Linked DNA regions of Homo sapiens. The gene in region 2 interacts genetically with the main gene of each other region. Each region holds a gene or a part of one and is shown on either strand. Other genes may lie near its edges.

What was found.
Region 1: changes in BCL2L1 (region 2) and SLC16A5 together harm fitness more than expected from each alone (negative genetic interaction), as found in Homo sapiens cells (one large-scale study listed by BioGRID).
Region 3: changes in BCL2L1 (region 2) and CKM together harm fitness less than expected from each alone (positive genetic interaction), as found in Homo sapiens cells (one large-scale study listed by BioGRID).

What each region holds. Positions count from the first base shown.
Region 1 is NC_000017.11:75,097,951-75,101,599, reverse strand, and holds part of SLC16A5 (monocarboxylate transporter 6), read right to left. Parts: intron 3,563-3,649; coding exon 3,419-3,562; intron 1,644-3,418; coding exon of another isoform or gene 1,594-1,643; coding exon 784-1,593; intron 1-783. UniProt on the Homo sapiens protein: Proton-linked monocarboxylate transporter.
Region 2 is NC_000020.11:31,712,766-31,716,414, forward strand, and holds part of BCL2L1 (bcl-2-like protein 1), read right to left. Parts: intron 1-3,649. UniProt on the Homo sapiens protein: Potent inhibitor of cell death. Inhibits activation of caspases. Appears to regulate cell death by blocking the voltage-dependent anion channel (VDAC) by binding to it and preventing the release of the caspase activator, CYC1, from the mitochondrial membrane.
Region 3 is NC_000019.10:45,316,231-45,319,879, reverse strand, and holds part of CKM (creatine kinase M-type), read left to right. Parts: intron 1-148; 5' UTR 149-166; coding exon 167-359; intron 360-1,900; coding exon 1,901-2,055; intron 2,056-3,649. UniProt on the Homo sapiens protein: Reversibly catalyzes the transfer of phosphate between ATP and various phosphogens (e.g. creatine phosphate).

The DNA.
Region 1 (3,649 bases), on a different chromosome or scaffold from region 2:
ACACAAACCCATGCTTTTTTTTTTTTTTTTTTTTTTTTCAGATGGAGTCTCACTCTGTCACCCAGGCTGGAGTGCAGTGGCGTGATCTCAGCTCACTGCAACCTCTGCCTCCTGGGTTCAAACGATTCTCTGGTGTCAGCCTCCCAAGTAGCTGGGATTTACAGGTGCCCGCCACCACACCCAGCTAATTTTTTTGTATTTTTAGTAGAGATGGGGTTTCACCACGTTAGCCATGTTGGTCTCGATCTCCTGACCTCGTGATCCACCCGCCTCAGCCTCCCAAAGTGCTGGGATTACAGGCGTGAGCCACCGCACCTGGTCACAAACCCATGCTTTTTTTTTTTTCTTTTTGAGGCGGAGTCTCGCTTTGTTGCCCAGCCTGGAGTGCAGTGGCGCAATCTCAGCTCACTGCAAGCTCTGCCTCCTGTGTTCATGCCATTCTCCTGCCTCAGCCTCCCGAGTAGCTGGGACTACAGGCGCCCATCACAACGCCCAACTAATTTTTTTGTATTTTTAGTAGAGACGGGGTTTCACCATGTTGGCCAGGATGGTCTCGATCTCCTGACCTCATGATCTGCCCGCCCCGGCCTCCCAAAGTGCTGGGATTACAGGCATGAGCCACCGCGCCGGGCCAAACCCATGTTTTTAACTGTTCATACTCTGAGTGCCAGGTTGGAAACCAGCTGTAGCACAACCTCTGGAGATGCTGGACTGGGCCCAGATCTGTCTAAACTGTTCCCCTTTTACCACACTATCTGGCTGCCCTCCCTCCCAGCTCCTCACCGGCCAGTGGTGGGGAGATGAGGAAAGCAAGGCCGTCCAGGACAGTGAAGAGTCCCAGGGCTCTGGGGAACTGATCCATGGGGACGATGTCCATGAGAACCTGGAAGATGAGGGCGCCGATGCCACTCATGGACACGCTGTACGCCAGGCAGTAGCCCACGAGCACCCAGAAGTCACCTGATGCCGCACACACCAGGTTAGTGAGCCCATTGAGCAGGAGTGCCAGGCTGAACAGGTACTTGCGGTGGCTAGCAAAGGCCGGCCGTCCTGCCATCAGCCCGGCTAGGGGCCTCAGGAAGATGTTGCTGAAGCCGATGATGGAGATGAGGAGGGCTGCCTGCTGCTCGTCCACGCTGTGCCACATGGCATATGGCACCAGGAAGACTTGTGGCAGTGGGAAGCCCAGGACGGACCACATCACACCCAGTATGTACACGCAGTAGCCTGTGTTGTGCCGCAGGATGTCGAAGGCCAGGTGGCGCTGGATGGTCCGGCCGCATGCAGCCAGGCAGCCAAGTGCAGGTGTCTCGGGAGGTGGCGGGGGACATTCTTTGGTCTCAGGGGCCACACTGGTGGCCACAGGCCTTATGATGGCCCCGCAGATGCAGCAGTGGAGAAAGATCCCGCCGAAGACAAGGAAGGTACCCCTCCAGCCCAGGTTCTCCAGAAGGTAGCGGGAGAGCAGCGGCCAGAGGGTGATGCCCAGGGAGACGCCCATCGAGGCCAGCGCGTTGGCCAGCACCCGCCGGCGGACAAAGTAGAAGCCCAGCACCGTGATGCTTGACTGGAAGCTGAAGCACATGCCCAGGCCTGCGGGGCAAGAGGGGAAACCAGCCTGGAGGCGCACTGGGGCCTTCCACCTGCACCCAGGGGTGGGGTCAGTGGTCATTTCACACACCTGCCCTCCTCTGGTTCTAGTCCATACCCAGCTCCAAGTCCCTGGGGACTGACCATGGAATCAGCTGGCCTCGCCACCTCCCTGTAGGCACCCCACCCCAGATCTGCCCTCCCAAGGCTGCCAGGGCATCCCTGTTCCCCTAGGTGTAGCACGAGAGTTATCTTTTAAAAACCCAAATTGGGCCGAGCGCGGTGGCTCACGCCTGTAATCCCAGCACTTTGGGAGGCCAAGGTTGGCGGATCACTTGAGGTCAGGAGTTCGAGACCAACATGGTGAAACCCCATCTCTACTAAAAATACAAAAAAATTAGCCAGGCTTAGTGGCAGGCGCCTGTAGTCTGTAATAGCTACCTAGGAGGCTGAGTCAGGAGAATCACTTGAACCCGGGAAGTGGAGGTTGCAGTGAGCTGAGGTTGTGGAGGTTGCAGTGAGCTGAGATTGTGCCACTGCACTCCAGCCTGGGCAACAGAGTGAGACTCTGTCTCAAAAACAAACAAACCCCAAATTGGATTAAGTCTCTCTTGGCTTAACACCTTCCAAAGACTTCCCATCACACTTGACAAAAAATCCACAGTCTCCACAATGCCCTGGAAGGCTCTCTGTGGTCCGGCTCCAGCCCGCCTCTCAGATGCCATCTCAGGCTGCTCCCTGTCACTCATTAGGATCAAGACACAGGAACTTCTTTCTCTGCCTCTGGACATGAAGCTGCCCCTACCTCGGGTTATTTGTAGCTGCTGTTCCTTCTTGGAATCTGCTTCCTCCAGACTTTCCACTCTCCTCTCAGTTCAGACGCCACCTCTCCAGAGGGGCCTTCCCCGCTCCCCACCCACTCAGTGTCTGCACCTGCACACCTGAGCATGCTGGAGAAAAAGTTCTCAATCATGTGTGACCGTGGCCTCAGGCGGGCCCTCAGGCTGCCTGTGACGCCACTACAGCTCCCTCAATCATGCCTTGCCTGCCCTGCTAGGTGACTACCGGTGTCTTCCTCTGTGCCCCCCAACACCTCCTCCCTATCCTTATGCTCAGCTGCCCACATGCCTGCTAGCCAGTGACAATGGCTTGCCCATTCCCCCAGTGGCTGTCCCTCCCTTCTGCCCTGCATCCTCTCCACTCAGAGGCACCCCTCTAGCAAGTCCCCTCTCTCCTGCATCATCCTTTTTCTCTTCTTTCCTAGATCCTTCTCCTTCGTTATTTCTCCCATTAAAAACAAACAAACAAACAAACAAAAAAAGCCTGTCTTGACCTCATAACCACTTCTGGGTATAGTCTGTTCCTCCAGTCCCCTTAAAACAAAATGCCGTGAAAGGGCTGGGCATGATGGGCTCACACCTGTAATCCCAGCACTTTGTTTTTTGTGTTTTTGAGATGGGGTCTTGCTCTGTTGCCCAGGCTGGAGTACAGTGGTGCGATCTTGGCTCACTGCAACCTCCACTTCCCGGGCGATTCTCCTGCCTCAGCCTCGAGTAGCTGGGACTACAGGGGCCCGCCACCAAGCCTGGCTAATTTTTGTATTTTTTTTAGTATAGACAGGGTTTCACCATGTTGGCCGGGCTAGTCTCGAACCCCTGACCTCAGGTGATCTGCCCGCCTCAGCCTCCCAAAGTGCTGGGATAACAGGTGTGAGCCACCGCACCCAGCCAGCAGTTCCAGAAGATTAAGAGGCCTGCCTGCCCTGTCCACTTGTGCCTGGCACTTTCTAGCAGGTGCCTATAAATTCTGGAGATGAAGTGATAGTCACCTGTGATGAATCCTGCTGTGAAGTAGAGCTGGCTGAGGTTGTGAGAGAAGGAGCTGGCCACCATGCCCAGGCTGGCCAGCACGCCCCCCAGCATCACGGTCACTCGGCAGCCGAAGCGTCCCACCAGGATGCTGCACAGGGGCCCTGTGGGAGAAGACAGCCAGCAGGTAGCAGCTGAATGAGGAGGTGGCGGGAGAGGAGGAGAGTGGCTGGAGAGGGCAGTTCCAGCTG
Region 2 (3,649 bases):
ACGTGTGTATGTGTGTGTGGCCAGGGAGGAGGGAGGGGAATGTTTCCCTTTCAAGAGAGGAACAAAGGATCTGAGGCATAGTTGAGTGCGTTCCAATCCCCTCCCAGGCCAGCTCCCATTCCTCAGATGATTGTCCAACAAGGTTTTCAACCTTCTAGCTTCCTCCTCAAAGGTGACTGGGGGAGGGGAAGGCAGGCTCTGTTTCACTCCACCCTTTATCATCAATTTCCAAGAGGCAGGATTTATATGTGCCAAACCTCAAGTTATCTCTTAAGAATCCCATCCTATGCAGGGGTGGGGTGGAATCTCCTAGGGGAACTCAGGGTTAATGGATGACACAGGGCACCGCAAGCAACAGGTTTAATGCATCTCCAGGGGAAGTCCAGGACTGAAACTGCTAATGCGTGATGGAGCCAAGGAGAGAACCCAGGAATTCTAACTGACCTCCCTCACAGCCTAGCCTAGGGTAGGGGGTAATGGCCTGGCAGAACCAAGTAGAAAGGCATTTTCTAAATCTTGAAGGGATGATCACAGCTGGAGGCAGAAGCCAGGTGAAGGAGGAAAGGGTAGGGAGCAAAGAAAGTAATGGACAAGAGGAAAGGCAGGGACACGTCCAAAAAAAGTAGTTTTTGGGGGGCGGACCTCTAGGGACATTGCTTTCCAGTTTCCACACTCTTGCCGGCAGGGCTGGGACAGGAAGCAGTCCATGGAAGTCATCGCAATGGCATTTCCTGAAGAGCTGGAGAAAAACCTCCAGTTCCGAGGGGAGCACTGGAGGCTGCCCAAAAAGCTGTGTGGCTCAGAGTTCACTGTAAGGCTCAAGCTTGGCCCGAGAGTCTCATCAGGGATGAAACCAAATAGCAGACGGTCCCAAAGGCAGTTTCTTTATACAAAACCACAATTTCAAAAATCAATATGTAAAAAAAGAGAAGCCAGATGATGTGAGTGAAGAGCCCTAGGATGATATGAAAGCCTTAAAAGAATGAATTAATTCACCCAATCTTCAGAAAAAGGTGGCATTACTATAGCCATTTACAAGTTAAAAGACTTGCCCAAGGTCACACAGCAAGCTAGTAGTCAAGTTCCAATTTGAAAGTCCAAAAACTGCCTCTTCCTCCTGATGTAACCTTGGGCAAGTCAATTCATCTTTCTCACCTGATTTCTCTCCTTTGAAACGGAGATGTCATCCTTCCTGCTCACCTCTCTGGGTGGTTATAAGGATCAAAAAGGCAAGGTGGATCTGAAAGTGCTTTGGAAGCTGTAAGGTGTTACATAAATATAGGGTAGCACTATTGTGGGCTCAGTGATAAACTAGCCTGCCTTGACACTGGGTTTAGTTAAGGTGCTGACATATCTGTCAACAGGAGAGAGCCATTTTAAAATATAACTAATGTGAAATATGCTGTAATGGTGGAATCCGCCACAAGGCCTAAGGATAGAGAGAACCAGCATTCCTTTATTGCCTACTTCAAACCCTCCATCTTGCATAAAGGGAAACTGGGGACTGGGGGTGAAGTGACTTGGCCAAGGTGAGACTGAGAGTAGAACTGGGATTCCAACTCCAAGACCAGTGCTTACACCACCATTGCACACAAACACTGTGGAGCTCCTACTACAACAGAAATGCTGCAAGGGCCTGCTCTGAGATGTGCTGATGGGTCACTATGGTATTTAGAAAAAGGAGAGTGGATGCTCAAGATTCCGTGAATGGGTCTCTGACATGCGTTCTGTGGAAAGATAATAAGAATAATGATACCAACATGGCTCCAGTCTTTATGCATCTCAGGTATACCTCACTGTGTCTTTACCATCGCCCCCTGTGAGGCAGGTATTATTATTTGTCCCAAGATTCAGAGAGGTAAAAGGAGCTTGCATAGGTAGACACGGATGAGTTGGGAACTGAACTCAGACAAATTTCATTTACTCAGACAGAAATACTGTTGGAGTGGAAGAGGACCATTCATCAGAATATCACATTTGGAGAGAACTATTCCCAAAGAACATCTATCTTACTTAACTTTGATTCTAGGACCTCCAAGTAGTTGAAAAATATGGTTTCCAGGATGGCTGGACCCATCAATATACCATGTGCAAGCCTGGTCTTATTCTCCAGTCCCCGTCTCACTACACCTCCACCTCTAGGTCCAAGCCACTATTCTTTTTCACCTGGCAATTGCACCAGCCTCTTCACTGGGCTCCCTGTTGCCACCCTTAAGAATACAGACCAGGCCTGGCACGGTGGCTCACGCCTGTAATTCCAGCACTTTAGGAGGCTGAGGCGGGCGGATCACGAGGTCAGGAGATCGAGACCATCCTGACTAACATGGTGAAACCCCGTCTACTAAAAATACCAAAAATTAGCCGGGTGTGGTGGCGGGCACCTGCAGTCCCAGCTACTTGGGAGGCTGAGGCAGGAGAATGGCGTGAACCCAGGAGGTGCAGCTTGCAGTGAGCAGAGATCGTGCCACTGCACTCCAGTCTGGGAGACAGAGAAAGACTCTGTCTCAAAAAAAAAAAAAAAAGGAATACAGACCATTCCACCAAAGCCAAATCCTCATCATGGTCTGTAATGCTGTATGCGATCTGGCCCCCACCTACTTCTCCATCCTCCTCCTCAACCATTCCCTCCCCACCTTCTACCCTTTTCCCCTTTGCTGTTTCTTCTCCAGCCACATTGACCTTCTTGCTCATCCTTGAAAATGTCAAGCATGCTCCCTCCTGAGTCCATTCCCTCTGCTTTAAACACCCTTTGCTGTAGGGTACCTACATCATCCACCTCCTTACCTCATTTAGCGCTTGGCTCAAATAAATTTAGGTAATACTTTTGTTGGGACTCAGGACATACCATCCCAAAATATGACTGTAGGAAAACAATATGCCACCCCAAAAATATACTTCTTTGGCATATTTTGAACTGGTTATTCTGAGAAACTGCAGACATAAGAGTAGCTCTGAAAAGCTGTCCTTTTGTAAAAGAAATTCACATCTAAAAAGGAAATCTACACTAGTAAAGGTATCTGTATTAGGAAGAGGGCTGCTCCAGACAAATTTTATTACCAGAGAGACTTTTTATTTTTATTTTTTGAGACAGGGTCTTGCTCTGTCACCCAGGTTGGAGCGCAGTGGCTTGATCTCGGCTCACTGCAACCTCCACCTCCCAGGCTCAAGTGATCCTCCCACCTCAGTACACCCCCTCAACAGTATCTGGGACCACAGACACACGCCACCACCAATTCTTTCCCTCACCCTGCCATAACTTGGGTTGCTGCCACTCAAGCCCCTAACAGAAGTCCCAAGCCCCATATTCTTTTCTGTAGCTCAGGATGCTATATAAGCTTCAATTATCTGACCCTTCTTTGAGCCTCATATTTTGTAGGATTCCTGTGTACAACTATGTAATTAATTATTTTTCCTCCAGTTAATCTGTCTATGTCAATTTAATTCTCAGCCCAGCCAAAGGACCTAGAAGGGTAGAGGAAAGCCATTTTTTTCTCCCTTACACCTTCTTTGATCACTCTTTTAAAACTGCAGCCCCACCCTCCCTTGCTAGACATGCCCTATGCCCCAACCTGCTTTATTTTCTTCATAGCATGTACAATCATCTGATATAAACATGTAATTATATATTTATTGCCTGTCACTCCTCATT
Region 3 (3,649 bases), on a different chromosome or scaffold from region 2:
GGTGGAGCTTGCAGTGAGCCGAGATCGTGCCACTGCACTCCAGCCTGGGTGACAGAGCGAGACTCCGTCTCAAAAAAAAAAAAAGAAGAAGAAGAAGAAAAAAGATGCCAGCTAATCTTCAATCTTCCCCTCCTGCCCTGCCCATCAGGTCTCCTACACCGCCACCATGCCATTCGGTAACACCCACAACAAGTTCAAGCTGAATTACAAGCCTGAGGAGGAGTACCCCGACCTCAGCAAACATAACAACCACATGGCCAAGGTACTGACCCTTGAACTCTACAAGAAGCTGCGGGACAAGGAGACTCCATCTGGCTTCACTGTAGACGATGTCATCCAGACAGGAGTGGACAACCCAGGTGAGCCTCCCCAGTGGAGCACTGAAGGGGCTACATGGGGGCTCTGGAGGCTGCCGGCCATGCCCCAATCCCACCACCCTTGAAGGGGGGGGGGCCTCAGTTTTCTCATCTGTAAAATGGGGCTGTTGTGGGAATCAATGCATTAATATACATAAAGGCTTGGGACAGTGCGAGGTACTCAGCAAACCACGCAATAAACATGCACGAGAATAATGTGAGATCCCCAAGGAGGTCGGTTCACCTCCTGAACCTCAGTCTCCTCATCTGAAAAATGGGCGCCCACGTTGTGAAAACACAAGTCAATGGCTGTGCAGTGCTTAGAGTGGCACCTGGCACCAAGTGAGTGCTCAAGCTCTGACAGGGGGGCCAGGTGCAGTGGCTCATGCCTGTAATCCCAGCACTTTGGGAGGCCCAGGTGGGAGGATCACTTGAGGCCAGGAGTTTGAGACCAGCCTGAGCAACATAGCAAGACCCTGTCTCTACAAAAAATACAAAAAAATTAGCCAAGTGTGGTGATGAGGGCTTGTGGTCCAAGCTACTCAGGAGGCTGCGGTGGGAGGATCGCTTGAGCCTGGGAGGTGCAGGTTGCAGTAAGCCGAGATCGCGCCACTGTACTCCAGCCACAGAGTGAGACCCTGTCTCAAAAAAAAAAAAAAAGAATCTGACAGGGGATGTTATTAATGTTATGGTTGTTTCTCAAAGGACATTGCAAGGCGAAGAGAGCTGGGAGTGGAGGGGAGGCTCTAGTGCCCCTCACATCCAGCTCACTGTGTGATGCCGGGGAGAAGCCCCTCTCTCCTGGCCCCTGTTTTTCCACTGGGAAACAAGAGGGTCTTTCAAGTCTCTTACCCTCCTGACCCTCTGTGGTACGGTGGTAGCCTGAGATCCTAACATTTCAGGCTAAGATGTCATGACTTTGGGTGCTAATGTTTCCGAGGTGCTGATGCTTTTAGCACCATGTACCCTCTGAAGCTCCCCTTTCTCCTTTGACCCCGCCCCCAGCACTCTTTCTTCTCTCCCACCTTGACCCCTCCCAGCCACCTTGACCTCTCCCAGCCTTCCCTCCCAGTTCCCACCAGTCCTCAGTGTTCTCTCTTTTTTTTTTTTTCCTTTGGAGACAGAGTCTTGCTCTGTCACCCAGGCTGGAGTGCAGTGGTGTGATCTTGGCTCACTGCAACCTCCACTCCCTTGGTTCAAGCAATTCTCATGCCTCAGCCTCCTGAGTAGCTGGGATTACAGGTGTGTGCCCCACACCCAGCTAATTTTTGTATTTTTAGCAGAGATGGGGTTTCACCCTGTTGGCCAGGCTGGTCTCACACTCCTGACCTCAAGAGATTCACCCGCCTCACCCTCCCAAAGTGCTGGGATTGCAGGCATGAGCCACTGTGCCCAACCCTTATGATTCTCAATTCCCACCCAGAGGTATTGAATGTACCCGCCCCCATCCCGACACACATGTCCACACAGGCTCCACTGAGCCCACAAGCCCACGCCCTGTTTGCTGGGGACAAGCAGCTCTGACCTCACCCCCACCCCTCCAGGTCACCCCTTCATCATGACCGTGGGCTGCGTGGCTGGTGATGAGGAGTCCTACGAAGTTTTCAAGGAACTCTTTGACCCCATCATCTCGGATCGCCACGGGGGCTACAAACCCACTGACAAGCACAAGACTGACCTCAACCATGAAAACCTCAAGGTCGGTGTCTGCGCAGGAGGGGAGGGCCGAGGGGTGAGGAGGAGAGAGATCACAGGAGAAATGGGGGGAGACAGAGAAATACAGAGACAGAGAGAGACACAGAGGTGTGGAGAAGCAGAGAGATGGAAAGAGAGAGGGACATTGGGAGGCTGAGGCGAGCGTATCACTTGAGGTCAGGAGTTCAAGACCAGCCTGGCCAACATGGCAAAACTCTGTCTTTAAAAAAAAAAAAAAGGGCTGGGCACGGCGGTGGCTCACGCCTGTAATCCCAGCACTTTGGGAGGCCAAGGCGGGCAGATCACCTTAGATTGAGAGTTTGAGACCAGCCTGACCAACATGGTGAAACCCCGTCTCTACTAAAAATACAGAATTAGCTGGGTGTGGTGGCACATGCCTGTAATCCCAGCTACGTGGGAGGCTGAGGCAGGAGAATCGCTTGAACCTGGAAGGCAGAGGTTGTGGTGAGCAGAGATCGTGCCATTGCACTCCAGCCTGGGCAACAAGGGCGAAACTCGTCTCAAAAAATAAATAAATAAATAAATAAAATAAATTAGCTGGGCATGGTGGCGCGTGCCTGTAATCCCAGCTACTCAGGAGGTGGAGGCAGGAAAATCTCTTGAACCCAGGAGATGGAGGCTGCAGTGAGCTGAGATCATGCCACTGCACTCCAGCCTGGGTGACAGAGCAAGATTCTATCTCAGAAAATAAAAAAAGGAAAGAGAGAGGGACAGAGAGACACAGAGACAGCCAAGGAGACACAGACAACCAAGGAGACAGACAGACAAAGGAGAGGGAGAGGGAGAAGAAAGGCACAAAAGCATGTAGAAAAGGAAGAGGCATAGCCGGGCACAGTGGCTCACGCTTGTAATCCCAACACTTTGGGAGGCTGAGGTGGGCGGATCATAAGGTCAGGAGTTCGAGACCAGCCTGACCAACACGGTGAAACCCAGTCTCTATTAAAAATACAAAAATTAGCTAGGCATGCTGGTGTTCACCTATAATCCTAGCTATTCAGCCTGGGTGACAGAGCGAGACTCTGCCTAAAAAAAAAAGGGTGGGGGGAGAGGCAGAGACACAGAGGGAGACAGAAGGGAGCATCAGAGAAGGCAGGAGAGACAGGGAGAGAGAGACACACGCAGTTGCAGTCAGACACAGACAAGGAGAGTGGGAGAAAGGGAGACAGGAAGAGAAACAGAAATGGGCAGAAAGGCTGGGTGCAGTGGCTATACCTGTAATCCCAGCACTTATGGAGGCTGAGGTGTGAGGATCACGTGAAGCCAGGAGAGTTCACGACCAGCTTGGGCAACATAGCAAGAACCCGTCTCTGCCCAAAAAAAAGAAAAAAAAAAGCCTAAAAATTTAGCTAGGCATGGTGGCTCATGCCTGTAATCCCATCACGTTGGGAGGCTGAGGCAGGAGGACTGTTTGAGCCCAGGAGTTTGAGACCAGCCTGGGCAACATAGTGACACCCTGTCTCTATTTTTTTTTTTTTTTTGAGACAGAATCTCACTCTGTCACCCAGGTTGGAGTGCAGTGGCTCGATCTCAGCTCACGGAAACCCCTGATCCCCAGGTTCAAGTGATTCTCGTGCCTC